2 separate regions of the Homo sapiens genome follow, and region 1 is linked to region 2. Evidence: fine-mapped expression QTL. A gene starts in region 2. The other region holds a variant in brackets. All regions are shown on one strand. Distances are between the middles of the regions.

Region 1 (10,325 bases), 64 kb before region 2:
CCCTTCTATTCCCTCGCCCTTCTTTATACTATATTCTATACAGCATCTCTTTGCTTATTTATTTACTGGATGCTCCCCTCTTCCCTGCAGCCACCACCTTCCCCTCCAAGCATCATGTCCCTCCAGTGCTTGGCAGACAGCTTGGTTCCTGGCCACTCACCAGCCGGGAGTTGTAGACAGGTGGTTTGATGGGTGTGGCCACAGGGCAGTTGATTCGCTTCTCCTTTTGGCGTCGGTTGCAGAACCAGACCCTCACCACCTCCTTCTCCATGGACAACTGCTCTGCAATCATGGAGATCTCCTCCGAGCTGGGTTTTGGGTTCTATAGGCACCGAAAGGACAGAGTATGGCCAAGAGAAGGGAATCAGGGGCAGGGAACAGAGGTCCCAAAGAAACAGGATACAACTATACATGGATCAAAAGCTTTAGAGTCAGACCTAGGATGAAATACTGGCTTTTTCACTTACTACGTGTCCTTACAAAACTTTCTTAACCTTTCTGAGCCTGTCTTGTCATCTATGAAATGAGAATAATCATGCCCACCACATAGGATTATTGTGAGAATTAAATGAGAAAATGTGTGTAAACTGTCAAGCACAGGGCCTGATACAAAGTAGGGTCTCCATAGATGTAGGCTGTCTTTCCTTCATTCATGAGTTCAGAGGAGAGAAGTCCATGGATGAGTTATGTGGGGCAGGTAGAGTCCCCAGAGCTGCTGCTCCCTTCTGTGTTCTTCCTTATTACCTGATGTCCTTCTCCCTTGTCATTTCTTTTTTTTTTTTTTTTTTTTTTTTTTTTTTTTTTTTTTGAGACGGAGTCTCGCTCTGTTGCCTAGGCTGGAGTGCAGTGGCGCGATCTCCGCTCACTGCAACCTGCGCCTCCCGGGTTCAAGCAATTCTCTCTGCTTCAGCCTCCTGAGTAGCCGGGATTACAGGCATACATCACCACGCCCAGCTAATTTTTGTACTTTAAGTAGAGATGGGGTTTCACCATGTTGGGCAGGCTGGTCTTGAACTCCTGACCTCAGGTGATCCACCTGCCTCGGCCTCCCAAAGTGCTGGGATTACAGGCATGAGTCACCATGCCTGGCCTGCCTTGTCATTTCTTCCTGTCCTCCTGTCTCAAAGCAGAAAATGAGAAAGCTAAAACATGTGGACCCATCAGGACTGTGGCATAGCAATACATGCTACACGGGCGCCACTCCCTTGTTCTGATCCTTCACACCTGGTCTCTAGCCCCGGCCACTTTCCCCTACTCCTACACCCTCCCTTAACCTTGCCACTCTAGAAAGCCTAAAAAGAAGGAAAAGCCAGTTCCTGTCATTCTGCTAGCTGGATATGGGCACCAAATCTTTGAGCTAAATGTGCGAGGAATCTGCTGGAGGGGCAGCAGTCCTGGAGGCCTGGGGCCTTTGGAGACGCGTGGTACCCATGGCGGCTCTGGAGGCTGGGATCTGAGGGAGCCTGGCTAGAGGCTGGCTAGGCCACATCTGTTTCTCCCTCTTCTCTTCCCCAGCCCACACGGGGCTCACAGCTTCCACATACTGGCTCAAAAACATGCTTTTGCTACAAGTTCCAAAAAACGTAGGTGTATAACACGATCACAAGTATCTAAATGTGCATAGAAAAGAAGGAGTAGAAGGAAATGAGGTCAGATGGCATTTGGCGATGGGCGTTTTTTTTCTTTCTACTTCCCTGCACTTAAATTGTTTACAATAAGCATTTATTACATTTATAATTTGAAAAATACAAAATGTACTGCATAGAAAATAGAGAACTTACATACAATCCCCTGACTTTGCTCCCTTTACCTCAACTGGATACGGAGATACACTGTGTTCTGGGACCCTATAGCCCATTCTTTAAATCTCCCAGTGAGAAAAACAAAGGGCCCTAAATAGATGTCAGGGCAAGAAGGGTCAGTGGAGGAGGAGGAGGTTCCTGGAACCTGAGATGGAGGGCAGCTTTGCACTCCAATACCTGGGCGCCTGGAGTGGGATAATGTGTTTTCTGATCGTGTCCCAGAGCAGGTGTGAGGTGCGGAGGGGCTGGTGCCAAGGGGCCTGGGCCGTGTCTGCTCTCCCTACCTGTGTGAGGTAGCCCACCCGTGCCCACCCGAAGGTGCTGCTCACATCTTGAAACCTCTTCTCCAGAGTCAGGCGGATGTTGGTCTCGATGCTGGTCCGTTTCTTTCTCTTCCTACCAAATACTTCACTGAGGCTGGGGTAGGAGCTGGGCGTGCTCACTGAGGGGTCTGACGGAGAGGACTCTGCAGGGACACGAAGGACCAGAGGAAGCTCAGAGAAGGGGATGAGTGGCCGGTGCCTTCATGGATCTGAGGTCCAACAACCCTTCCCGATGGGCTCTGCAGTGGCATTTTCAGGAGCAATCCCCTCCCCCAGCAGGGAGCCCAGAACAGACCAAGAATCCTATTTCTTTTCATTGCTCAGGGCAAAGGCCCTCCGTGGCCCTCCATTGTCCTCCATGGCCTTCTGTGGCCCTCCGTGACCCTCCATGGCCCTCTGTGGCCCCCACAGCAGTGTCTCCAGTGTTTGGGGTCACAGCTGAGGGATGCTCATGCATCGGTGACACATGTGGGTGTAAGGGGGCACTGGCAGGGCTCCTGTGAGTAATGCTCGTGAGGCTGCTGTTTACAGATATGCCTGGATGTGAATACTGAGTGAAATGTGAAATGAGATTTGCAGCCAAAAGCAATGGCACTTGGTGACAGACTGTTGGTGTTGGAGTCATTTTCCTGCCAGTGCAAATGTTTGAGCTAAGGCTGTAGGGGCCATAGGAGGGATATCCCTGAGGAAGGATTCAGGCATCTGATGGAGACTAGGAATGGTCACAGGGCCCTTCCCCAGAGATTCGAAGACCTTCGGATCATTTCGCTCATTTCAGTGCTTCCATAAAGGCTGTCTAAGGGACAGCCTGTAGGGGGAGCTTCCTGCCCCCTCCCATGCTTGCGTGTGGAGGCCCTTCCGTATGAGTAACAGCCCTGGCTGGCTGCCCCACCCTTTTCTCCCTCTCCAGTGTAACCACGAATCCATATGAATCGACTGAATAGAGCCCAGCCCTGGAGACTGGCTCACTCCCTCTCTCTGCCTAGGCCGGCAGTTCTCAACCGGGGGGGACTCTGCATCACCACCACTCCCCCTGGGACATTTGGCAATGTCTGGAGAGATTCTTGGCTGTTTCAACTGGGGGTGGATGCTACTGGCAACTAGTAGGTAGGGACCAGGGATGCTCAAAACATCCTGCAATGCATAGGCCAGTCCCTGGTAACAAGAATGACCTGGCCCAGGATGTCTATAGTGCCAAGGTTGAGAAGCCCCATCCTGTATGCTAGTCCCTGCTGCCAAATGTGAGGTCCCTTGGCTTACACGCTTGATCTCCTGGGTTGCCTCCCGGCCACCACCCCTCACTGAGTCCTCCTGCAAACCCCATTCCTGCTGTCAGGCTTTCCTGACCAGCATGGGTTGCAGTAAGTCCCTGTCTGCTGAAAACCTCCTCAAGAACTACCCAGGGAAAGACCCTGTGTCGTGCCTGTGGTCTCCCCCTCCCAGTGAGACCCTAGAGGCCCCACTGCCCTGTATCCCTGACTAGACTTATTCCAGACAGCAATCTGCATAAGTGTATCTGCTCTGCAGATCCAGACTTTGTTGCTGGCAAGCTGTCCTAAGATCTATGCTGGGTGGGATGGGGTAGGAATGGAATGGGGACAAATCCTGATGGACACAGACCTAAATCCACATCCTTCTGAGGGCTTCTCAGTAGTCGAGCTGACACTTTCATCTACACTTGCCTGTGTCCTGTGTCTTGTTTCTCCATCGGCTCCAGTCTCAGGAGAAGAAGGGGGTGTTAGGTATCAAACTCCCAAAAGCCCCAACACGACAAGTCACTGGCCCTTCCCTGCAGAGCCCTCTAGGGCCCCTGGCATCCGTGTTTGCGAGGCCTACCTGCATCATTCAGCCACTTCTCCAGCAGGGGCTTGAGCTTGCACATGTTCTTGAAGCTCAGGTTGAGGGCCTCAAATCGTGAGATGGTGGTCTGGCTGAAGTCGTTGCCATACAGCTTTCCCATCGCCAGCCCCACATCTCCCTAAGCGTGGGGACCGAGGGGGAGGAACATGAGAGGCAGCCTCCTCCTCTTGTTTGCCCACATCCTGCATGGTCCTAGCATCGATCACACAGCCAGCCTGAATCTTTGAGTGCTCACCCATGCTCGGCTCCTTTCCAAGTCTCCTCCCTCTAAGGTGAAGAATCGGTTTCTTTCTCTCCTTAGACTCTCAGTGGACCACGCCCACGTGCTCAGGAGAGCCAGCCCCTTTTCCACCTCTCATTCTCCTCCACCAGCAACGTCCTCAGTTTCCCTACCAATGGCAACTGTGCCCTATTCTCAGAGAACTCAGGGACATGATGAGGAGACCCCAAACACATCGAGCCTCTGGTCGCTCTTGAAACCTGCACTTGGGAAGCCCAGTCTCCAGCCGCTCGGCTAGACTTCTTCTATCTTTTCCCCTAAAACCAAACCTGTGTGAAGCCCAGCTTAATGCGCCTCTGCTTGAAGGTCTTGGCAAACTTCTCCAGCTCCTCGAGGTCACTGGGCTCATCGGCCCCTCCAGAGCTGGGTAGATGCTTGGGCACTGGGAGATGCTGGGATGCTTCCAGGTGGGGTTCTAAAGAGGATCCTGGCAGCCCAGGG[T/C]GCCCAAATGCCTGATAGGAAACACGCCAAGCAGATCCACCACGAAGATCAATAAATAACATTTTCTGATTTTTTTTTTTTTTTTTTTTTTTTTTTTTACTAATAGGCCCACTTAGAGGATGACAGATCCCTGGATACACCCTGGGTACATTGGAGTCTTATATTTTTCCAGTGGCATGGAAGTGGAAATTAAAGTTTCTATAAATGTATAGCAAATAACTGGAATATCTGGGTAGAAACATCAGGAGTGCAGGATAGGGAGGTGGCCTGAGTTTAGCCTGTGACTCACTTTTTGAGTCTTAGCAGGTTACTTCCTCCTTTCAGTTTTCTACCATAAAAGGAGCTAGCAGGGTTGTTTACAAAGATTCCAAAAACAAATCACAGAACTGGACAAAGAAAAGGTTGCTTGCTTTGTTTTTTTGTTTTTTGTTTTTTTCCATAAAGCAGGTAACTGAGGTGTTGAACAGGCATTAACTGAAGATAACAGGGGACATCCAATAACTCATGGCCTTCATAGAACTTTCCTAAAATGTCAAACTCTTGTGCCTCATTTTACTTTCTAAACCACCATTTTCTTTCATGAAAGTGTTTTGTTTTTAATCAAAGGTATTTTAATCAGTACCTTTATAAAATGCACCTTGATCACATTTGGGTTGCTAGGAGATATTCTTTCTTTCTCTCTTTTTCTTCTTCTTCTTCTTTTTTTTTTTGAATCAGGATCTCACTCTGTCACCCAGGCTAGAGTGTAGTGGCACAATCACTGCTCACTGCAGCGTCAACCTCCTGGGCTTAAGTCATTCTCCTGCCTCAGGCTCCTGAACAGCTGGGGCTACAGGCGTGTGCCACCACACCTGGCTAACTTTTGTTTTTTTAGAGACAGGGCTTCACCATGTTGCCCAAGCTGGTCTCAAACTCCTGGGCTCAAGTGATCTACCTGCTTTGGCCTCCCAAAGTGCTGGGACTACAAGTATGAGCCACCGTGCCCAGCCAAATATTATTTCTTGAGCTTATTTTCATAGGAAAACGTACCCTTAAACCTAGAACCATGCTGTGCCTATTTGGGGTCAGGAATGAATCCGATCTTAAGGACATCTATCATTCCACAAGGATAGAGTGGAATCTGGGCCTAGGGGTCCAGGCACTGTGGCCAGCTAGCTCAAAGGGCTAAATCCACCTCTTCTCTCCTTTTTGATTTACTTTTTGTAGACTAAACATTACTTCTTCTCCTCTGGGATATTTGGGTTTACCATTCAGATAGGTATCCTTATGATGAAGAAGGTAAAAGGACCTCTAGAGAGAAGTTTAGGAGTCTTTCCCCCAGTGAAGGGTCTTTTAGTCTGAAACCATCATGAATTTGGTCTTAGTTTGCAGGGAGAGGGTGTGTGAGGAGAGTGTGGCATAGACCAGACCCTCAGGACAAAGCCCCAGTCCTCTTTGAACCTTCCTTTTCATTAAATCATTTGTTCTTTCATTTGACAAAGACTTATGGGGCTCTCTGCTAGACCTTCTCCCTCCTCCTTTCATCTCCAATCCACTGGCAAACTGCACTGATTCAACTTCCCAAAGCATCTCCTCAATCATCCCCTCTTCTTATTGCCACAACTCTAAGCCAATCCTTTATGACCCCTCCCCTGGATGATCTTCATAATCTTCTATGTGGTCTCTCTGCTACCAGTCTCTCCATGCCAAAATATGATAAGAGATGAGAGTTGATCTTGAAGATTCTAAGATCTCTTCCAGCTGTAAGCCCATGGCTATGAGATTCTGGAGAGGGCAGCCAGGAGGAGGCGGAAGAGCAGCTTATGATGCTGGTGTCCCCATTTCAACCACTAGATGGCGAGCTTCCCCTCCAGGTACTTTTAGTGGCCTCAGCCCTCTCTGAAGGCCGGGCTCTTGGTGAGCCATGGGGATCTTAGCACAGAGATCTCTGCAGTCATTCCCAACCATTCTGCCCAACCATCTGTGCAGAGCCATCTCATGCAGCTGTGCAGGTTATTAACTGTACAGGGGCACCCAGATCAGGGGAGGAATGGCAGCTAAGATACAGCTCATGCTGCTGTCGCCAATCTGTCCACCTTGGCATGAGACTGCACCTGGCCAGAAGAGGTGCCTTTTTCCTAGTTGGAAAAAAGGTGCTGTGTGGAACCATGGCAGCTCTGCAAACAACCCCTCTCCCAGACCTCAGCCCACTGGCCTATATACGTGCCCACTGCAGGAGGCAATCTGGAATAGTGGCCCAGAGGTGAAAGACACTGGCTTTGTGGTCTGGGACATCAGGTCTGTAGTATTCTAGTCTCCCTCTTGGGGCTTGAGAGCACCTAGGTAGGGTTCGTGGCCATCTTGGTATGCCTGAGAAGTGAGCTGAGCCTGGCTCTCAGAGGAGCAATGCTGGGGCCTGTGCAGGGTTGGAGTTCAGTGCCTGGAGCATGAAGGAGGCTGGCCTGGGAGCTGGAATCTCTGGATTCTAACTGTGGCCCCACCAGTGACACTTGGTAAATTGTCCCCCCACTTGCTGTAGCTTGGATTTCCCCTGTGCCAATGGATAGTTCCCTGCTATCCCCTCTCCCCAGAGGGGTTAGTGCCCTGTTAAAGGGGTAGGGGGAAACCAGTGAGTTAAACTCAGTGAGAGCTGAGACATTCCTAGAGGAAACAGGAAGAATGGGGTTGTTTACCTGGGATGCCAGTCCCGGCCCAGTCTGTGGGAGGAGGAGACCGCTTTGTTGCTGTGGAAAGGGGAGGAGATTTGGCTGCAGACCTGGGTGAAAGGGGAGGGACAAAGGAACAGACAAATAAAATCCAGGCTATTTGAAACACATGTGCTACAACTTTGGCACCACGATCACTGTCCCCACCCCCTGCCACCTGATCAGGTCCCTCCACCCACCTCAAGTCCCATGGAGAGGCCCTCCTAGCACTGCCAGGCATTGCCACATACAGGTGGAGGCAAATCAGATACAGGGATAAACAGACATGTAAACAGCAGTCCCCAAACCAGTCCTTCCACCTGCCCGCCTGTCTGGAGAGGCGTAGAGGCTAAGGAGGGTCAAGACGATCTACTCTGGGATCTGATTACCAGAGCTGAAGAAAACCAAGAAGGGAAAGGATGCAGGGTGGCTGCTGAGAATTCAAGCTAGGGCTGAGGATTTTGGCTTTCCCTGCAGGAGAAGTAGCTGGGTTATGGCTACAGAGGCCCAATCAAATCTGCGAGGATGCCAGACCAAGCAGATACGACCATACGGCTCTAAAGGGCAGTGGGCCTTAGCCAGAGGCATGTGGCTGACCAGGACATTTTATACTTGGGAGAGAGGGCTGAGAGAGGAGGGAAAGTCCAGGGCTGAGCCTCTGGAAACTCCCTTGGGCAGTATGTATTATACCGGCTTCTCCATCCTCCCCAGGAAAACGGTACATGAGGGACTCTGCCTGGTTGGTGGCTCACTCTCCCAGCAGGAGTGGGGCCATCAAACCACCAAAGCAGACAATGGGGTTGGTCATCCCAATCGCTTGTCACTCAACAGCACTTTGGGGTCTCTGTTTTCCCTAGGCTGTTCTGGGTCACAATGTACATACAGCATCTGCTGATGTTGACCTTTATGCTCTTCAGTTTCAAAAAGTCAGGGCTTCATTGTTCATTATTAAAATACATAGGCAAGAAAGCTCTTACAAGGAATCCAGAACTGGGAGTTGAGAGGCTTGGGTACTAATGGCAATTCTGACATGGCGGTTGAAATGGATACAGCCTTTTCACATGCATTATTTCAAGTGACTCTCAATAATCTCATGAGGCAGAGCCTTGCTATTATCCCATTTTTTCAGAAGAGGAAATGGAAGCTCAGAGAGGTTAGGTAACTTTCCCCAAAACACACAGTTAGTAAGTGACTTTTTAAAGAAACCAGTAAATTTTTCTGACTCCAAATTTGGAAGTGTCTTTCCACCACTGCATCATACACTGACCTAGGTGGTTATAAGCCTGGGCCATTTTCATGTCGCTCTCCAGTCTTCTGAAAACAAATTAAACTGTTACCTTCCCTTTTCCATTCCAGGAGTATGATGTTTATTTTTTAACCAAAATAAACACTTAAAAATTCAAATAGGGTCTCATTCATCACCATAATATTCTGAGGTGCCTTGGAAACTAAGGATAGTGACTGTCATTTGTGCAGGTGCTAAGGGCGGAAGGCAGAGTTGCATTTTGTTTGGATTCTGGATTTCCAAAACCTCTACTTGGGATTTGTGCAACAGGAGAGAGTTTATACTTCCTCCATTATTTTTTTTTTTCAGAGACAGAGTTTTGCTCTGTCGCCCAGGCTGGAGGACAGTGGTGCAATCTTGGCTCACTGCAACCTCTGCCTCCCAGGTTCCGGTGATTTTCTTGCCTCAACCTCCTGAGTAGCTGGGATTACAGGCATGCACCACCACACCCGGCAAATTTTTGTATTTTTAGTGGAGACAGAGTTTTACCATGTTGGCCAGGCTGGTCTCGAACTTCTGGCCTCAAGTGATCCGTCCACCTCGGCCTCCCAAAGTGCTGGGATTACAGGCGTGAGCCACCGAGCCTGGCCAACCCTCCATCACTTTTGACCCTAGCTGATGGAGATGGGAGTGGGACAGGCAGCACACTGTGATGACCAAGAGTATGGGTCTCAGCTAAACGGTTCTGGAACTTCCCAGTAGGTCACCAGAGGCATAATAGAACTACCTACTTTACAAGGTTATTTTGAGGAATGTCAGAAAAATTACTCAGAAGAGCTCCTGGCACATCATGCTCAAGAAATGTTAGCTATTTATTAATAGTTCAATCTATTTGCTCTTGGCCAGGGAGAAGTTCTCTGCGAGTAACTTCCCTGCCAAAGAAAACCTGAACACCCTTTCTACAACCTGTGGGTGGCACTGCTGCTCTCTCCAAATAGAATCACAGCCAGGCTTCCAGGAAGCAAGTCTGAATCTGTGTCCAGGAGAGATTTCCAAGGAATTGGGACTTGTCTGTACTGCATTTCCCAGGGCGCTTCCCCTCCCTTGTACAGCATAGCTCTGCTCCACGCCTGCACCTTCCGTCTCCACTCACCACGAAATTGAGGAGGTGGACCAGACCACCCAACAGGAGGCTGGGAAGGGGAAGCAGAGAAGGAGACTAAGCCTGGAGGAGCATTGCCAGGGTCCCTTCCTCAGACCCTGGGGTGGATAAGTAGGTCTTAATAGCAGATGGGTGACTGACTGACGCATGCTCTCCAATTAGGCCCCCTCACCCAGCAAAAAACAGCAGCAACAGCAGCACTTGACTGGACTTGGTCTAGGTGGAAACCCCCAGGGTTCTTACCTTGCTGCCCAGGCTGGGTCTGAGATAGCAGGAACTGGGATACAGACTGTAAGTGGCCGGGAACCAGCACAAGCTGCTGGAGCGGATGGAGGGAAGCCATGTCCTACACACGGAGAGATACACATACACCACAGAATTTACAAGCTGGGGACATCAGCCCCATCTGCCTGCCACTCGTCCGTCCCAGGGGTCTCCAGACTCAGAGACTTTGCAGGCTGACCTTGGTTTATGCCACTGTGTATCCCCAGTGTCTAGCAAATAGTAGCTACTCCGTTAACACTGGTATTGTTACAGCTTCTGCCCTC
Region 2 (16,975 bases):
CCCTTGTGCTGCTGCAAAGACATTCTGAGCTCGTGGGCAGCTTATTCTTCATCTATGCCTCGGCTTCCTCACAGGCCAAAGAAAGGAAAACATGTGCCCCCGGCCACGTCTCCACCAGCCAGGAGGTCTGTGTCTGGCCCTGAGAATGCTCCCCTGGGCATTCCTGACCAGTGCAGATGGGGAAATTTACCTCCCTTTCCCAGTTCTTACCCCCCAGTACCCCTTGGGGATTTCACGCAGCACAGGGGGTGCTTTCAGGGAGCTGGGGCTTTCTAAGTCACCTTTGTTTATAGTTCCTTTAAAACCCAGAGACAAACCACCCCTTAATTCATGCACTGCTGAGAAGGTGAATCTGCCTTTTAAAATCCAAAGGAAGCCATTAAACCAAGTTGGTAACCATTGTGACTCATAATAAGCTTTCTTCTGTAAAAAGAAAATGAGTCAGAACGACTTTCCAGGAAGTTTGGTTACTTTAATTAGCCACCTCTTTCTTCTTGCCCTTAAACACAGGCAGTAATTTGAAGATCACCTAAGTATTGATGCTACCAGCCGGGAGCCCTGAAGTGAAAGATCTCCTGGTGGTGGTAAAGTTCCAGACATCACGGGCTCCTTGGAGCTGAAAAGGGACCTGTGCAGAATCCTTTCCTAAATGGGAAAGGGAGCAAAACCAACCTTCCGGGCTGATGCACTGGCCTGAGTAAAGCGGGGAATGAGCCAGAAGTACTCAGCAGCGATGCCCATCTGTATATTCCAGAATCTTAATGACGATCACAGCTGCCATGTGCCAAGCACTGTGCTAAGGGCTTGAGACATCATCTCAAGTAACTCTCAACCCACTCTCTAAGTTGGGCATTACTTTTCCCCCTTTACAAAAGGGACAAGGATAAATTTTCAGGTCATGCAGCCAGTAAGCAGTGGAGCTGCAAATTTTATCCCAGGTCTGTTTGATTCTAGATCCATACTCTTCAAAGCTCATCCGTTCCTACCTCCTAGGGAGGCAAAGTGGCTGGTCTAAGGTCACATATTGAATTGGTGGTATCCCCGGATAAGAGACAGATTCTGAAGGTCTTAGCCAATGTCTGGATTCTTTCTCTCTTAACCTACTTTATATATAGCTCCCAGATAGGAAGCCAGAATTTGCTCATATTGACCATAACACACTAACCTTCCTAACCCCCACCAGGATTTGAACTCCCTCCCTTTCCTGGCTCCTCTTTCAGGGTTCTATGTGGCTCATTCTCACTCCTAACACTGTTACCCTGATTTGGTCTTAGTAACAGAACACCAGTGCAAGCTGGTTAGGCGTGGTCTTCTTTCCATGTGGACGCTCTCTTAGCTGTGTCCCCACACACCTGGGCAATGGGCCCCAGGTAAACAGAATTGGCTCCAGCCAGCCTGCTTCCAGAAAAGGGCAATCCAGCCTCTCTGGATCATGGCTCCTGGGCTGGTTTTTCTCTAGGGAAGGGTGTCAGTGTGGGGACTATATCTATCACTCTCTAGCTGAACTGAGTTTAAAGTCTTGCTCAGGTTTTTGAGATAAAAGGGAATCTTCTTCTCAACTGGGAAGAACAGGTGCCCCTCTCCACAGACCCTTAGTAAAAGATACTCTGCTAAATAATCTATTGAAACATGAGTGTGACCGGCCCACATTCTCCTTAGTCTTGCTGCCTCTGTACATAAGCAAAGCAAAATAGAAAGATTGTAGTTTGATGTGTATTGCTACCTGTGCAAGGAAACACTGTTTCAGTATTAAACTGGGGAGCAGAAAAGTTTATGGCAAATGCATACTGTGGATGCCCTCCCCGCCAAGACCCCCAATTATCTTGCCCCTGACAAGAATCTCATAGCTTCAAGAATGGAACTACACTGCTCTACAAGATTTGAAAAAGATTTTAGCTCTGGGGGACATTGATTCTCTTCCACTTCTAATTTCTATGTCTCTAATGATCCAGATGAAAGACTAATTGAGGTCTGGTTGGAATGCTATTAAAGTTATTTGGTGGTGCTACAATTTATACTCATCTTTAAGTTCTTTTTAATTATATGGAGCTTTCAAAGCAAGGCTTGAACTATGGAGGTAAAAATAGAGAGCTATGAAACTCTCTTTTTTAATTCTTCTTTGTTCCTCTCAGCTTTTTTTGGGACGGTCCAGCCTCAAACTCCTAGGCTCAAGGAATCCTCCCACCTTGGCCTGCTGACTAGCTGGGACTACTGACATCCTTTCCCTTCTTTCCAAAGCAAAGTCACCTCCAGGCACCAAGCCTTTCTCTCTGAGCCTATTTGCCACCCACATGCACGTTATTTGGAAGAGAAACATTTGTACACAGGCCTCTTTGGTTAGTGCCTTGAGTAGGACTATCAAGGTATCTGGGGCTAAAAGGCCTTGTCCCCATCTAAGAAAGACAGGTTCTGCCTCTGCCAGTCACAGCAGTTGGGAACACAGCTGCTCCTGAACTTTTTTGGTTTTGTTCTGTTTTTAAGTATCTGGTCTCTTCCTAGCCTAATTCCAGAGGTTTTGTTCCACTGTGGAGCAATATCTACTGTTCAAAGGCTCCAGAATCATATCCCATGTCCTCAGGGAATTCCCTTAGTTCCTAAGACCTAGCTTTGGGGTCTGGTTGGCTGAAAGACCAAGCAAGAAGAGACACCAGTTGTTCAACAATTCCCAACAACTCTCTTCCCCCCACCCCCTCCATCCCCGAGAAGAGAAGACCCTTACCTGGCTCCACCTGGCTGAGAGTGCTGCGAGCATCCGTGGAATCGGCTACATCCCCACTCATCTTGATATCTGCAGGGAAAACACAACTGATTTTAATAACAGGTCACAATTTTTCTTGCTATGACATATGTGGCTTTAACTAAATAACAAAGATGAATGTGTAATTACAACAACCATCAGACTTTCAAATTCCTGATTCCCGAACATACAACCATTAGAATATTCATAAGCTTGAGGGCACGGATCCCCTCCTCCCATGCTCGCCTCCTCTCCTTGCCTTTCTCTTCCCCTTTCCCCGGTGCCACTGCAGGGTCTCTCACCTTTTGCATCATTCATGGCCACTTGCTTCTATCACCAGGACTCAGTTGGTAAAAATTTAACAAGGGGGTGGAGGGGACACTTCCCATTTCCAACACTCGTTTCCTTTGGGATCTGAGGAATTTATTTTATTTTTAAATAGTGAAAGAATTATCCCTCCCCGCCTGCCTCCCCAGCTCTGTTTCCCTTAATAACCCCATCCTGGAAGGTAAGAGTGCCCTTAAACCAAGGCTTGCCCTTCTCACCTTTCTTCCCAGGTCCTGCCTGGGTTCTCTGTCTGGTCTCAGAGGTCAGCCCACAGTCTGGGGATCAAGTCCTAGCTCCTGTGTTGTCCTCCTTGGAGATCCTGTCCTTTGGGGATCCTTACCTTCTCTCCTACTCCTTCAACTGGCTCAGTGAGAAAGGGATGGCAGCGGGTCAGTGCCCCACAGAAAGAGAATACCTACACCAGGCCCCTGGCTCAGCCCCCAAGTCCTGCTGGTCCAGCCTCTCTGCCCTGCTTCATTTCAATAAATTAAACATTTACCCTTAACAGACAGCTGCCACCACCTATGTGGGAGGCCCCTAAGTCTCCTCTTGGGGTCAGCAGGGGGAAGAAGAGAGGCAACTTTGAACCAACTCACTCTCTCTCTGCTCCTCTCCTTATTAAACCACCCAAAGACTGAAGCCTTAAAGACAGAAGAATATTTATTCAAATCATGTTGACCCCCACACCCCCCCTTCTCTGGGGCAGCACTTTAACTCTTTCAAACCAGATAAAGTCTTGGTGAGCCAATTTGCGTACTCAGCTCCCCAGCCAATCCCAGTCAAGCAGGCAGTCTTAATTTGCATCAGGTAATCAGGCAGTTGGCAGTCCGGATGCCCAGGTCTGGAGATGATCAGGATGAGGAAAAAGGGTAGACCTGTGCCCCAGGGAAAGAGGGGAGAAAACCTACTTTTTCATGTGTGTGAGGACTAACGTGTGTGGCTCCGGCCGAGGTGTACACCTCTGGAGTGTAGCAGCTTCGATGCCAAACAAGACATAGATGGGGGATCCAGAGATTTAGAGGCTAGAATACCCCAGAAATAGGGGAGAAAGTCAGGAGTCACTGTGGTTTAAGGAGTTTTCAAGACCAGCCAAATTGAGGGAAGACGCCAAGGTAAACACTTAGAGCTCTATGGAACCCTCCCCAGACAAATCTACACTGCACTTTGTGGTCGGTCACAGAGCTCTGAGGAAGACCTGCAACCTTACCCCACCCCCTCCCCTCCTAGTGCACAGCGTTTAGGGAGGCATTTCTTGAGCCTAACCTCAATCCGTCCTGCTGCAGTCTCAAACTCTCTATAGTTTGCCATGCATGAATATGCAGAATAACTACTATGGACCGCCCAGACACATTTGCAAAGGGCTTCTGCTGCCACTGGCCTTCTGTTCCAATGGAGAAACGGGCTCCCCTCTCCCACCCATTAAGTACTATCCCCCCTGGAGCTGGGCATTGCCTAACGCAGATCTGCTCAGCTCATACTTCACCATGGGGATTCTTCAACAGTGCTGAGAAGAGGCCCTGAGTCAGAGACTGCTGGAAAGGTGCACAGGAAGTTCTCCCCCACTGGTGGTTTCAATTTGCTTCATCAGCACCAGGATTCAGAGCATGGGATTTGGCATCAGACAAACCTGGATTAATCTCAATGCCATCACTAACTAGCTAGGGGACCCTAGCCACATATTCGGATGTGAATTTTCTCACCTAAAAATGAGAATAATGATATACACTTCCCAGGGTTTTTGTGAGGATTAAATGAAATACTGAATGAAAACTGCCAGGAAAGGAGTTCCAGGCACAAAGTAAGCACCTAATAAATGAACTAATTAAACAGACACTTAGGCTTAGATGCTAGTCCGCTTCCCTTCCTGCCTTCTTCTCATGCCCCTCCATTAACCCCTTGCCCCATTATAAGGAATAGCTTTGGTTTTCTGTCTCAGCACCATTGTAATTTGTCCTTTATCTGGGAAACCATTAGGATTCTCCAAATTCTGACTTCACAGAAAAAGTGTTCATGAGGACAGGAAAAAGTTAAGAGGCAGTGACGCTGGGATGATGACCAGAGTCTCTGAATCAACTCATTTCAAACTCCTGAAATTTAAGAAGGTAATTCTTTAGCTAAACTGTAATCGCATGCCTAGAACCCAAATTCTCCTCCAACACCCATTCTCCACATCACCTTCATCAAATACACACAGAAGCTCTCATTCATCCTTCAAGTTAGCCTGACATTTAGTCTTAATCATGTCTAAAAATAACTTTCAAAGGCATCAACCCCCTCCCCTCCTCATCTGCCATGTTGTCTACTCATTTGATGTATCCATTATGGGATCAACAAGGTGCCACTTCAGGATTGGAGGGGCAGGGTGAGATAACCTATCAAGCCTCTTCTTGAGTCCCATAGGATGCTAAGACACTGAGAACCTGTTCCTGTTGGGTAGGAGGCTGAGGCTGATGGGTGGGACGAGCTTTTGGGTCTCAGCCTAAAAATGGGCCAACACCGAAACTCCCTGAGACACTGTAACCCTTCACCTGTCGGACAGCACTTGCCAGGGGTGAGTGAGAGAGGTGTGGGGTGGGGCCAGGCTCCTCTGTGTTATCTCAGCCAGACACTGAGTAGGCTCCTTGCCATCACTCCCTTCCCTGGGGAGGCTCAGCTGCTCTGTGAAAGAGCCCAGACACCAGCTGCAGACCCTTGGCTGCCCCACTCAGCACCATCACACCCTGAAGTTAGCGTTGGCTTGACCAGGAGTGGGCCCTCCTTAGACATCTGTGAACCCCAGGGAAGAAAGCTCGAGAGGAAGCACTCCCCACAGGCTGCAGGCTGAGGGTCCTGGACCTCCTGGGACCAGGCTACTCTGGGAAAGCAGAAGCCACAGCCCTCTCTCCTAGTGTCCATCTTCATGTTCTTGGAAGGACGGGAGCTCCCTCTGGCTCCTCCCGCACATACCTGCTGATGGCGGCACTTCCACTGGGAGACTTCAAAGGACCCACCGGCCCCACTTCTGAGCTAGCCAAGGCTCCAACTCTCCGCCAGAGGAGACTTCTCTCATTTCTTCTCAGTCCCATCATCAGGCCTTCCAACCCAAATGCTATTCCTGAGCTCCAATTGGCACCCGTCTGTGAGACTCAGCCCCCCTTTCCCAACCTTGGTGGGGAAAAGCTCACAGTGAGGAGAAGGGCAGAGAAAGAGACACCTGGGGCAAACCAGGTGTGCCCCCGCCCGCTGGCTTCCCACTGTTTTCCTTTGTCTCTTATCTGCCTCCCTAGCTGGCTGTCTCGGGTCTACTTCTCTGCCTGTTTTTAGTCAGGGAGCAGGGAGCCCCTCCTTGCTGCAGAGCCCCTGTGTCTGGTGACCCTCTGCCTGCTCAGGTCTTTGTGCTTCCAGGTGAGAGATGCTCTATAAAGTACAAGGTGCGAAGGCTCCAGGCAGACCTGAATCATGGCTCGTACCCAGGTTATCAGAGCAAGACAATGGGGCTAACTCCAGCTGGCCTCAGTGCGAGTGGAGCCCTTGGAGTGGGCGACCCGGGAGCAAGCCTATGCTCTAGTTTGTGTGCTCCTGTTCCTCCTCCTTCCCCCATCCAAACTCCTCCAGTAAGTCAATTAAGGAGGAGACCCCAAGGACCCAGCCCTGGGAATTCACAGGAGAAGTACTATTTATCAAGATCAGTAGGATACAGGATTACCTTGGCGGGGGAAAATGGGACTCAAAAGAGACCACATTTCCAAAAGAGGATCCTGGACTAAGGGACCCTAGAGAGGGACCCATAATGAGATATTCCATAGAGGGAAGAGCGATCCTCCTTCACAGACCCCACAGCAGGGTGCGCACTGGAAGACCCTACAAAGAAGATCTTGAACAGTAAAGGCCACCAGGAGGACCCAGCAAAGAGAGCCCTCTAATAGAGACCCAGTTAGAGAGATGGGACAGAAAGTCCTAAACTCAGAGACCTCTGGAGGTGCCACTGAAGGGGAACCCTCAGACACTACAGAGGGGCCAAGACCCAGAAACTGCACAGGGAGGCCAGGTAGCCCTGAGGGGGGAATGGGCTGGGGAGGGAGCAGGCAAATGGAGAGAGATGAATTGGGCAATCTACCCCCAGGTACATGGAGATCCCGCCCTGAGGAATCACCCCACCTGGGGTTTAGCTCAGTCTCCCCCCATGTGTCGGGAATACCTGCTCACAGGGACAGGGTGGAGAAGGTGTCTGGGCTTCTGAGAAGCATCAGCCAGGAGCTCACTCCTGGGGAAGGCATAGAGGCCAAGCCCTATGCCTCAACCTCATCCTCTGGTGTTCTCTGCTCTCTGCTATATCCTCTGAGGCCCCAGGCTGCCTCCCTGCTGGGTCCCAACTGTCCCACCCCCTCCCACTTCCACAGAATGGGAGCCTCCAGTAGACAAGGAGGTGGAAAACCCCCAGGAAGTCTGTGATCTTGGTGCTAAAAAACTTCCCATCCACTGCTAAGCCCACCTTTCTGAAGAGACTTGCTCCCATTCAAACCCTGGCCTTCTCTGCGGGCAGTGAAGGGGAGAGCACCTACCCGGGGATCTGCCCCAGGTATGCCCAGTCTAGAAACAGACTTTCCTCAGACTCTGGATGACACCCAGTTGGATGGCTTCTTCCGCCTCACCTAGCCTTTCTGGCACGTCCTGGAGAGCCACTCAGTGCCAACATCTCACTGCCAGTCTGCCTCTCACTCAGCCCTGCCAGGAAACAGCATCTGGGGAACTGGGCACTCCAGGTCCCCTCCCTCCGGGCACTCACTGACGCTTGTTTTCAGGCTGGGTAGGCCTCAGGCCTGCTCTGCTTCTTGGGGTGGGTCTGGAGCATTGCCTCCTCCCTACTCTCCCAGAAAGGAGACCAGGTAACAACATTCCCATCAACAGCCCCGAAATCCTAAAGAAAGATCACTGGGTCCTGCCCACTTTGAGAGTAAGTTGCTAGGTTAGAAATGGCCAGGTCAGGTACCGCTTTCTTCACTTGTTCTTTGCTCAGGCCCTGTGACCTCCAGAAGGCCCACCCTAACAGGAAGCCCCAAGCCAAGCCCAACCTGGCTGCCTGGCAGCTCCTGCCTTAGCCCAGCTGTGGAAGGAGGAACAGCAAGGTGAATGGAGGGGCTGGGTTCCCTCCATGCCCACCTCTCATTCATTCATTCAGGGAAGCCTGACTCCCGGCAAAGCATTTGCATCTCCTAGGTTTCCACCCCTTAGGGAAGGAAGGCATGGGACATGGAACCCAGAGGATGTGTCTGTCACCATCCCTTCTCAAACACATGGGGGCATGGCCCCTGCCCCAGGGGCACCTCTGTAATTGCCCCACCTCAGCCACTTCTCCTAAGCCCCCCAACCACCTAAATGTCCGCTTTGCCTCCATTTCACACATATGCCCGGACACCAGCACACAGCATGTGGACATACACATTTCCCTCACTTATGCACTCCCAGGTCCACACCCCTGGCTGAGTGAGTGAACCACCCATCCCTGCAACCTCCTGAGACTATGACAGTTCAGTACACCCACGTCCCATACAACTGCCACTCCCCAGACCGGGGGCTTCGAAGCCCTCCCGCCCTTCACCAGCCCCCACCCTCATTCTTTTCCAGGGTTTCTTATCCCAGATCCCCTCCCTTTAGTCCCCAAATACTGACCGGCACCCACCCCAGGACAACCCGCTATCCACACCGCCCTCTCCTGGCCGCTGGGAAACAAGCCCCCCTCCCTAACCAGAACGTTGTCCCTCTCCTTCACCCCTGCCCACGCGCAGTGACACCTGTCAGAGCTCATTCCCTCCGCCCCTCACCTGTGTGCATGGACTCCAGATTCACCATCCTGCCCCAGGCGGGGCCAAAGCCAGCGCCCCCCCAGGCCCCTCGCCTCTGCCCCAGCCGGGGCCCCTGCGAAGCCAGGGTCTCCTTCCTCCAGTTCCCGGCCGCCGCCGCCGCGGGAGCCGCTGCCGGAGCCGTCGCCGCCACTGTCGCGCGCTCCGCTGCTCCGGCCCGGGCAACACTCGGCGCCGCCAGGATTGCCACACTCCCCAGGTGAGCACGCGGCGCGGGGCGGGGGCCGCCGGCCACGCCCCCTGGCAGGAGCCCCGCGCCTGGCCCCAGGCCCATGCAAAGCAGTGATTTGCATACATGGAGCTGGGGACCTGGGGAGGGGGCCGGGGGTGCTGCCGGGGCGGGTCTCGATCCCGCGGAACACCTGCCTGCTCCAACCCAGCCTGGCAGCACCTCCTCACCGCGCCCGGAGTGGCGCCAACTCCTGGTCCTGCTCGCCCTTTTTAGGAAGCCCTGGCGGGTTCTCCAGCCTGAGCCCGAGCTTCCTTCTGGACAGATCGCGAAGTGTAAGCGCTGCAAGGAGTTGGAGTGTTTGGAGAAGTCGCGGGGGTCTGCTGGAAAGAATTCAGTTTTGGAATCTCGCCTCCCAACCGCTTACCAGCAGTGTGGCTGGGACAAGGTTCTTCACCTCCCTGAGCTCATTTAACTCACCTGTAAAACAGGACAGGTGCTAATCGGGTTCCCTATTGGGCTGAGCAGGTGACCAAGCTCACCTAGCCCCCATGGCATCCTCACAGCATTGTGGGATTTAGACGGGGTGCAGTTTATTATTAGCAGAGTTTCCAGGTGCACACAACTGCTTCCTGCTTGCCCCTCCAGTCTCCCGCCCCAGGTCCCAGGTTGCTGTGAGGCTCTACGAGATGATGGATGTGGAAGTTACCAGTGCCCAGGCTTTTGGTGACAGCCACCTTCCAGAGCGGGGAAGCGGCTTGCTCAAAGGTGCACACTTCCCTAGTGACAGAGCCTGGCTGGAATCAGGTCTCTGGACTCCCACTCCAGTGCTCTTTGCAGCACCCATCATAGGCTCACCCCTTTCTCTTCGTCTCTTCAAGTCCCAGTAAGTGGTCTGTCACCACAGGATGGCCTGCATGGAAGCCCAGAAAGCTGTGTGCAGACAGGAGGGCAGGGCCTCGCTTTCCTTCCCAGACAGGACTCCTCATGAACATGTCTTCTCCTTAGTCCCATGGGCTACTTTCTGAGCACAGAACAGGTTTTGGGCTTTCCTGCCTCTACACCTTGTTTACAGTGTCCTTTCCCCCTGGCACGCCCATCCCACCGTGCACTCCAGTCATGCCCACGATAACACCCAGCATTTCGTGTGCCTTCACTGTGTATCAAGCACTGGGGTGACCAACACTTGAAAGGCATCTTTCGTGCCTTTAGTTCTTGTTTAGTCCTCAAAACCTGTACATTGTACTATGATTATTGCCATTTTATAGATGGGGAAAATGAGGCTTAGAGAGTTTAAGTTCCGTGTTCTTTTTTTTTTTTTTTTTTTTTTTTTTTTAGACAGAGTCTTGCTCTGTTGCCAGGCTGGAGTGCAGTGGTGCAATCTCGGCTCACTGCAACCTCCACCTCCTGGGTTCAAGCGATTCTCCTCAGCCTCCTGAGTGGCTGAGACTATAAGCACGTGCCACTACACCCAGCTAATTTTTGTGTTTTTAGGAGAGACAGGGTTTCACCACGTTGCCAGGATGGTCTCGATCTCCTGACCTCGTGATCCACCCGCCTCAGCCTCCCAAAGTGCTGGGATGACATGTGTGAGCCACCACGCCCAGCCTAAGTTCCATGTTCTTAACAGCCTTCGTGGCAGGTTCTGAGGGCCTTTTCTTAGCTTACCCCCTGGTTGGTAACTGATCAATTGCTTCATTCTAGTGCCAGCACCCCAGCACCTAGAACAGGGCTGGGCACACAACAGGTATCAGAAAGTGTTCTGTGGGTGCTACAGTGGCCCCAGAGGAACAGGAAGCACTTAATTGCTTCTTCAGGTCCACATACACCACCCTCCCCAGTCACATGGACCTCCCTTCCCCACGCTCCCGAAAAGAAGGGAGGAGAGAAACTTCTTCTTGCTTCTTTTTCTTTTTCTTTTTTGAGATGGAGTTTCTACCTTGTTGCCCAGGCTGGAGTGCAATGGCATCATCTCGGCTCACGGCAATCTCCGCCTCCCAGGTTCAAGCGATTCTCCTGCCTCAGCCTCCCGAGTAGCTGGGATTACAGGCATGCGCCACCATGCCCGGCTAATTTTGTATTTTTAGTAGAGACGGGGTTTCTCCATGTTGGTCAGGCTGGTCTCAAACTCCTGACCTCAGGTGATCTGCCTGCCTCGGCCTCCCAAAGAGCTGGGATTACAGGTGTGAGCCACCGTCCCCTGCACTTTTTCTTGTTTCTTCTGGGTGAGGAAAGAGACCAGCAAGGGCTTATTGGAGGCCCAAGGGGGTCCCTCTCAGGACACTCTCAGCCTCTGTTCCTTCCTTCCCTCCTATTCAACACTCCCCCAACTCCCATCCCCTTCTGGCCTTTTCTTCTCCTCCCCAACTTCAGGTTTGGCCCCTTCCCTGAAGTCCATTTCTTACCTACAACTGCACTCACCTACCACCATTCTGGAAAAATGCCTGCACACAGCTTATATACCCCTGTGTGCTTGTGATTTCCATATCTCTATTTGCATATTATTTGCATGGCCATGTGCACCGAGGGTCTCATTCTCCGACCACCTTATCTGGGGCCCGTTGCCCTTTTTCATGTGCAAAGTCACATTTCTTCTCTGGGCTTTAGTTTTCCAAAAGTCAGAGAGGCCCATATTTGATAATTTCAAAGGGCCTTCTGTCTCCAGCAGCCTAGGATTCTGGGGTTCTGGGGGGAATGGGGATATGGAGTTCTTGTGGGGATTGGGGTGGAAGCTGAGGCACAGATAGGACCTTGGAGGTTCACAGCTGGAGGCACAGCTTTGGGTTCCAAACTTGGAGTGTGGAGGTAGGAGGATGAACGGGGCAGAAGGGGCTGGGTGGGGAGAGGATAGCAGATACTCCCTCACATTCATTCATTTACTCATTCACTCAATGAATATAGATTGAGTGCTTCCTACGTGCCAAGAACTGTGCTCCATGCTGAACATACACCATCTGATTTTAGTCAGTGCCACTTTAGATGGAAGGTACAATTATTAGCCCTGCGTTACAGATGAGAAAACTGAGGTTCAGAGAAGTAAACGCAGCTAGTAGACTACAGAGTTGGTATTTAGACCCAGGGCTGCCAACCCCAAAGCCAGGATTTTAGTCCTGCCCTCCAGTTTCTGAATCTGAGCTTCCCCTTCTCTTATCAGATAACGAGGTAGAAAGAACCTAGATATCATTGAACCCTTCATTTGAGGGACCTGAGGCCCACAAGGAGGGGGACTTACCCCAGAAAACAGAACAAACATATGGCTCAGCAGAGACGTTTCTACTCTTCCCTGCTTCTCCCTCATGTGCCCTGAGGCTTAGAAGGCTGGGGTGCCCTCTAAGTCCCACCTGTGTATAGGGTTGAGGGGGAATGGTGAGCAATCTTTATTCCTTCTCTCTCAGACTTGCTCACTGATCATTTCAGTTAGATGAGCTAGAATGGGAACGTAGAGAACTCCTTTACCCCTTCCTCCTTTAGCAGTTCTTGGAGACTCCATGAAACCGGTTTTTTGAGCTCTGGGCTGGAGTGAGATAGAGAGGAAAATGTCAACCCCCCTGAGCCTGATACTCCCTGTCCCTGTTTAGCTTAGGAGAGGAAAAGCTGTGGGGAAGAGAGAGAGATAGGGGTTTGCCTGGAGGTTAGAAAGGAACAGAAGAAAGAAAGGGAAAAAGAAGCCAGGACAGGAAATTTCTGTGCCTTTGGACATCAAAAGAACTATATGTAAATGAAATGCAAATTAAATGCAAATCATCCCTCCCTCCCTCCCTTACCCCACCTCTCTCAACAGCTGGAGGACTTTTTTCAGAGTAGCAGAAGCCTTACTCCAGGATGCTGTGGTTTTGAAACTGTCATCAATTCTGACCCCTCCCCAGGTCCTCCGGGGTCTCCTGGAGTGACATCTAACCCCCTTGGCTGCACCTCTAGGGAGTCACTAGTGCCCCAGGCTTCATTTCTATTTGAACATATCATCAACTTCTTTTGTTTCAAGGACAGAAAGCTCTAAGAGTCAAGCCTCCTTTCCAGACACAGTGGGTGGAAATGGTGCACAGCCCTGGAGAGGGTACTGCGTGGAGTGGGCCCAAGCCCCATCCCCACCTCAGCAGGGAAAAGGGACCTTCTTGGCTGTAGACCCTGGGCTCACTCCCATTTCCTGTCCTGTCAGCTGGATTGAGTTGTCAGGGCTAGGAGAAGGGCGGAGAGTGAGGCATCCTGGAAGGCCACCAAGGAACAAGTCCCTTCTAGCCCTTTCCTTCTGCCAGATGGGCCATGGGGCCCAGAGCGTGGGGGTACAGGAGAGGGTCAGCTCCTTGCCTCAGGGTGATCAAAGAGAATGGATCCAAACTCAGATTCCCAATAAAAGCAGATGGGAGCAAGGGAGAGGCTAGGAAGGACTTCCAGGCCTGTTTTAAATCATATGTCAAGGTACATCTGAGGGCATCATTGCCGGGAGGCTTTTGGTGGAGGTGGGGTTCGTGTCAGGGTGACACAGTGAAAGGTGTCTTGGGAACCAGGATAAGGTAACTGTGACTGGCGAGGGGATGGGTAGAGGACACCAGAGTCAGGATACAGAGCTATTCTCTGCTCTGATGTCTCTAATGCTGAATACCCCCTGCCCTTGCCCAAGAGACATCTCCCCATACCCAGCCTTCACCCATGTCGGGGGGCAGTACACACACATTCATTGTCCATTTTGCACTTAAAAGTTCAGAATCATTGATAATAGCAACATATATTTAATTTAAAGACAACATAACAGCAACTCTGCTTCCAATCAATTTTTTTGACTTTGAGGCCGGCATTGGACCTGAGCTGGATCTTTCTAACTGCACCTTCGACAGAGCCCAGCCTCAGCCTCTGCCTCAGCCAGCCCTTTCCTGGCTGCCTGGACCCACCTCACCCCAGGTAACCTTCCCAATCCACTTACACGCTCAGGGCAAGTCTAGGCCCTGCGCGCCCTCTCGTGGTCACAGGGGCGTGTGACCCTGACTTTTGCACCTCTACCTGCAAGACCCTGGAGAGATCTTTTCACAGGAGTGCCCATCCATGGCTGGGGGATGCACAGGGGAGGGCCCCAGGTCTAGGCAAGATGGGGATGTTGAATTTTAGTTTCAGACTACCATTGGGTCTTCCAGTCCCTGCTCCCCATCAAAGACCAGACCTCAGCCCAGAACCCTAGTTGGAGTCAGCCAGCTTGGTTGTTTCTGCTCAGTCAACGCAGTGACAGGTGCTCCTGGCCCGTTGGGCTATCCGTCCTGTTGCTGGACATCTCTGCCAGTCAAAATGTCCTACCTCCTGTACTTCCCTTTGCAGCTGCAAAGGGCACTGATCCCCGTGGGATCAGCGTATAGACAAGGACTGAGTGTGAAGGCGCGAAAGCAGGAGCCACGAGGGTGGTGATATTCACATGGGAAGGACCTGGAATCTGCCCTGACTTCGGTGAAAATAGTTCAGCCATTTCAGTAACAGATGACTTGTGACACATATCCTAGCTGATTGCTGCATAGCCTTGAGTAGCGATTCCAAGGTTGGAAAGTGCTGGGGAGGAGGATGCTGGCAAAAAGGTGGTCTGTGAAGGAGCCGGGAGAAATAGGGCAGAGGTGGAGAGGGACCTGGTTTTGAGGTGTTTTTTTATTTTGTTCTTAAGATGAGAAAGAATGCGAACTCTCCAGGGCCACTGGGAAGGAAGCAGGAAAGGGAGCAATGCTAGAGGAAGAGGGGATCATTTCCCCCAGAGAGGGAGGTCCGGGAGAGTGGGGAGAAAAGACATGTCTCCATGAGGTCAGGAGGGGAACTGGGAAGGTGGGTGCCAGCGTAGGCCAGGGAGTGGTGAAGAGGCTTCTCCTCTCGAGGCTTCTGCTTTCTGTGATGTAGGAGGGGAGGGAGCTGCCTCTCATCCTGCCTCTCCCTGCTTAGGAATCAGGACCTTGTCACAGGAGCCAGGGCTGGTGAGATAGTTGCCCCCCAGGGGCATGTGGACACCACCCTTGTGACTGTCTTTCCCTGGCTCCACTGAGAGCTCCTGAGGTCCAGCCCTTCTCCATGGAGGTCTGCACTGAATACCCACCAAGTGAGCCTACACTTTCCACCCGCTTTTACCCTCTTCCCTTCTACCACTAACCTTCTAGGTCCCCAGCTGGGGCCACTGTGGTTATCAGTCAGGGTTTCTGCAGGAAAACAGAACCAACTTAACTCGGAGTGCCTCTAACAAAGGTGTTATTGACAGAGATGCCAGCAGGCTTAAGGGAACCAGCACCCAGAGAGGGGCTGCACAGAGAAGCGAGGGCAGAAGAGGCAACAGGAGGAGACAGTGGTATGGGAGCCCCGGAAGATCTGGAGCCTTGGAGGAATGAAGCCAGTGCCACATGTGTGGTGCTGAGGCAGCCAGCAGGGAACTGACACCCCACTGCTGTCCTGTGCTCCCACCTGCAGTGCTTCTCATCGGCTGAAGCCAGAGGGTGAGGAATCCCAGGTGAGGGCAGAGGAGGGTGGAGGGGAACAACCATCCCAGCTGTCACCTGGCTACAGCCAATAGCTGATACTGAGAATAAGCCCTGGAATGCTGTCATGTTTCTCACTGGTCAAACAGCGAACAGTTTATGACAATACCAAGCGATGGCAGGCATGATGATTCATTTTATGTGCCAATTTGGCCAGGCTCTCATACCCAGCTGTTTTGTCAAACATTAGCCTAGACGTTGCTGTGAAGGTATTTTATAGACGTGACTACCTTTATAATCAGTTGACTTTAAGTAAAAGATCACCCCTGTATTGCGGGTGGTCCTCATCCAATCAGTTGAAGGCCTAAAGAGCGAAAATGGAGGTTTCCTGAAGAAGACATTCTGCCTTAAGACTATAACACAAGAGTCCCGCCTGAGCTTCCAGCCTGCTGCCCTGCCCTACAAATTTCAGACTCCCGGCTGGCCACAACATTAAGTTTTGCCTCAGCTGCCAGACTGCTAGTTTGTTAGGATTTTGGGCTTGCCAGACCCCAAAATCCAGCAAGCTAATTCCTTAAAATAAATCTTTCTCTATGTGTGTATCTTACTGGTTCTGTTTCTCTGGAGAGCCCTGACTGATACCACAGGAATATGAGAGAACGGGAACTTTCAGACACTGCTAGTTGTGTGTAAACTGGAACGGCCCCAGCTGTAGGGTGATCTGACAGCATCTACAATGTTCACGCCTGTGACACAGACATTCCAGTTGCCTGTTTTTTCTTTTCTTTTTTGGAGATTGAGTCTCACTCCATCACCCAGGCTGAAGTGCAGTGGTGCGATCTTGGCTCACTGCAGCTTCCGCCTCCCGGATTCAAGCGATTCTCCTGCCTCAGCCTCTCAAGTAGCTGGGATTACAGGCGCCCATCACCACGCCGGCTAATTTTTGTATTTTTAGTAGAGAGGGGGTTTCGCCATGTTGGTCAGGCTGGTCTTGAACTTCTGACCTCAGGTGATCTGCCCGCCTCGGCTTCCCAAAGTGCTGGGATTAGAGTCAGTTGCCTGTTTTTTCTATTCCTGCCTACAACCTGGCTTGTAAGAGCAAGTCACAGTAAACAATTCGATTTTCCATCAGTAGCCAAATGGCCAATAGACCATTTGGGAGAATATTAGGCGATTAGACATGGAATGCCCGTGTTGGGGAAGACCTTGGAGATAACCCAGTGAGACCCTCTCTCTTATGGGATGTGTGTGACCCACACAAGGTCACACAGAGCTGGGCCCCAGCGGGTGCCCATGCTCCTCAGATACAATGCTGGCCTCGAGCCTTTGGTTCTTGAGAGTGGCACTTGCCCTCCTTTTTGCCGGAGTCCTTGTCCCCTCATCCACCAGAGCCAGGTCCAATAAAGACCCTGGGGTAGAGGTCCTCCAGCTGTGGCCCACAGTTCCCCCACTGAAGGCCTCCCTTGGCTAA

Direction of the effects. Positions count from the first base shown, and alleles are read on the strand shown. Sizes are in standard deviations (SD) of each study's normalised expression.
As copies of C replace T in region 1, the expression in unexposed skin of the gene that starts at base 9,097 in region 2 goes down (small effect, 0.24 SD a copy in GTEx).

Evidence for each region.
Region 1: its variant is fine-mapped to the expression of POU2F3 in unexposed skin (GTEx, PIP above 0.99).

The regions. Positions count from the first base shown.
Region 1 is chr11:120,299,422-120,309,746 of GRCh38, reverse strand. POU2F3 (POU class 2 homeobox 3) reads right to left here. Exons shown (of 13, transcript NM_014352.4): 5 at 10,021-10,123; 6 at 7,379-7,461; 7 at 4,535-4,717; 8 at 3,962-4,103; 9 at 2,132-2,268; 10 at 161-322. Among named protein-coding and RNA genes, the nearest start is that of TLCD5, 21 kb to the left of the region's middle. RefSeq lists enhancers at 1,958-2,127, 2,025-2,194, 2,467-2,969, 3,534-4,051. The variant T/C (reference allele first, on the strand shown) is at 4,707.
Region 2 is chr11:120,232,262-120,249,236 of GRCh38, reverse strand. It overlaps POU2F3 (POU class 2 homeobox 3), which reads right to left and starts at 9,097. Exons shown (of 13, transcript NM_014352.4): 1 at 8,866-9,097; 2 at 2,720-2,788. The coding sequence starts at 8,893. RefSeq lists an enhancer at 1-69 and a silencer at 13,893-14,115.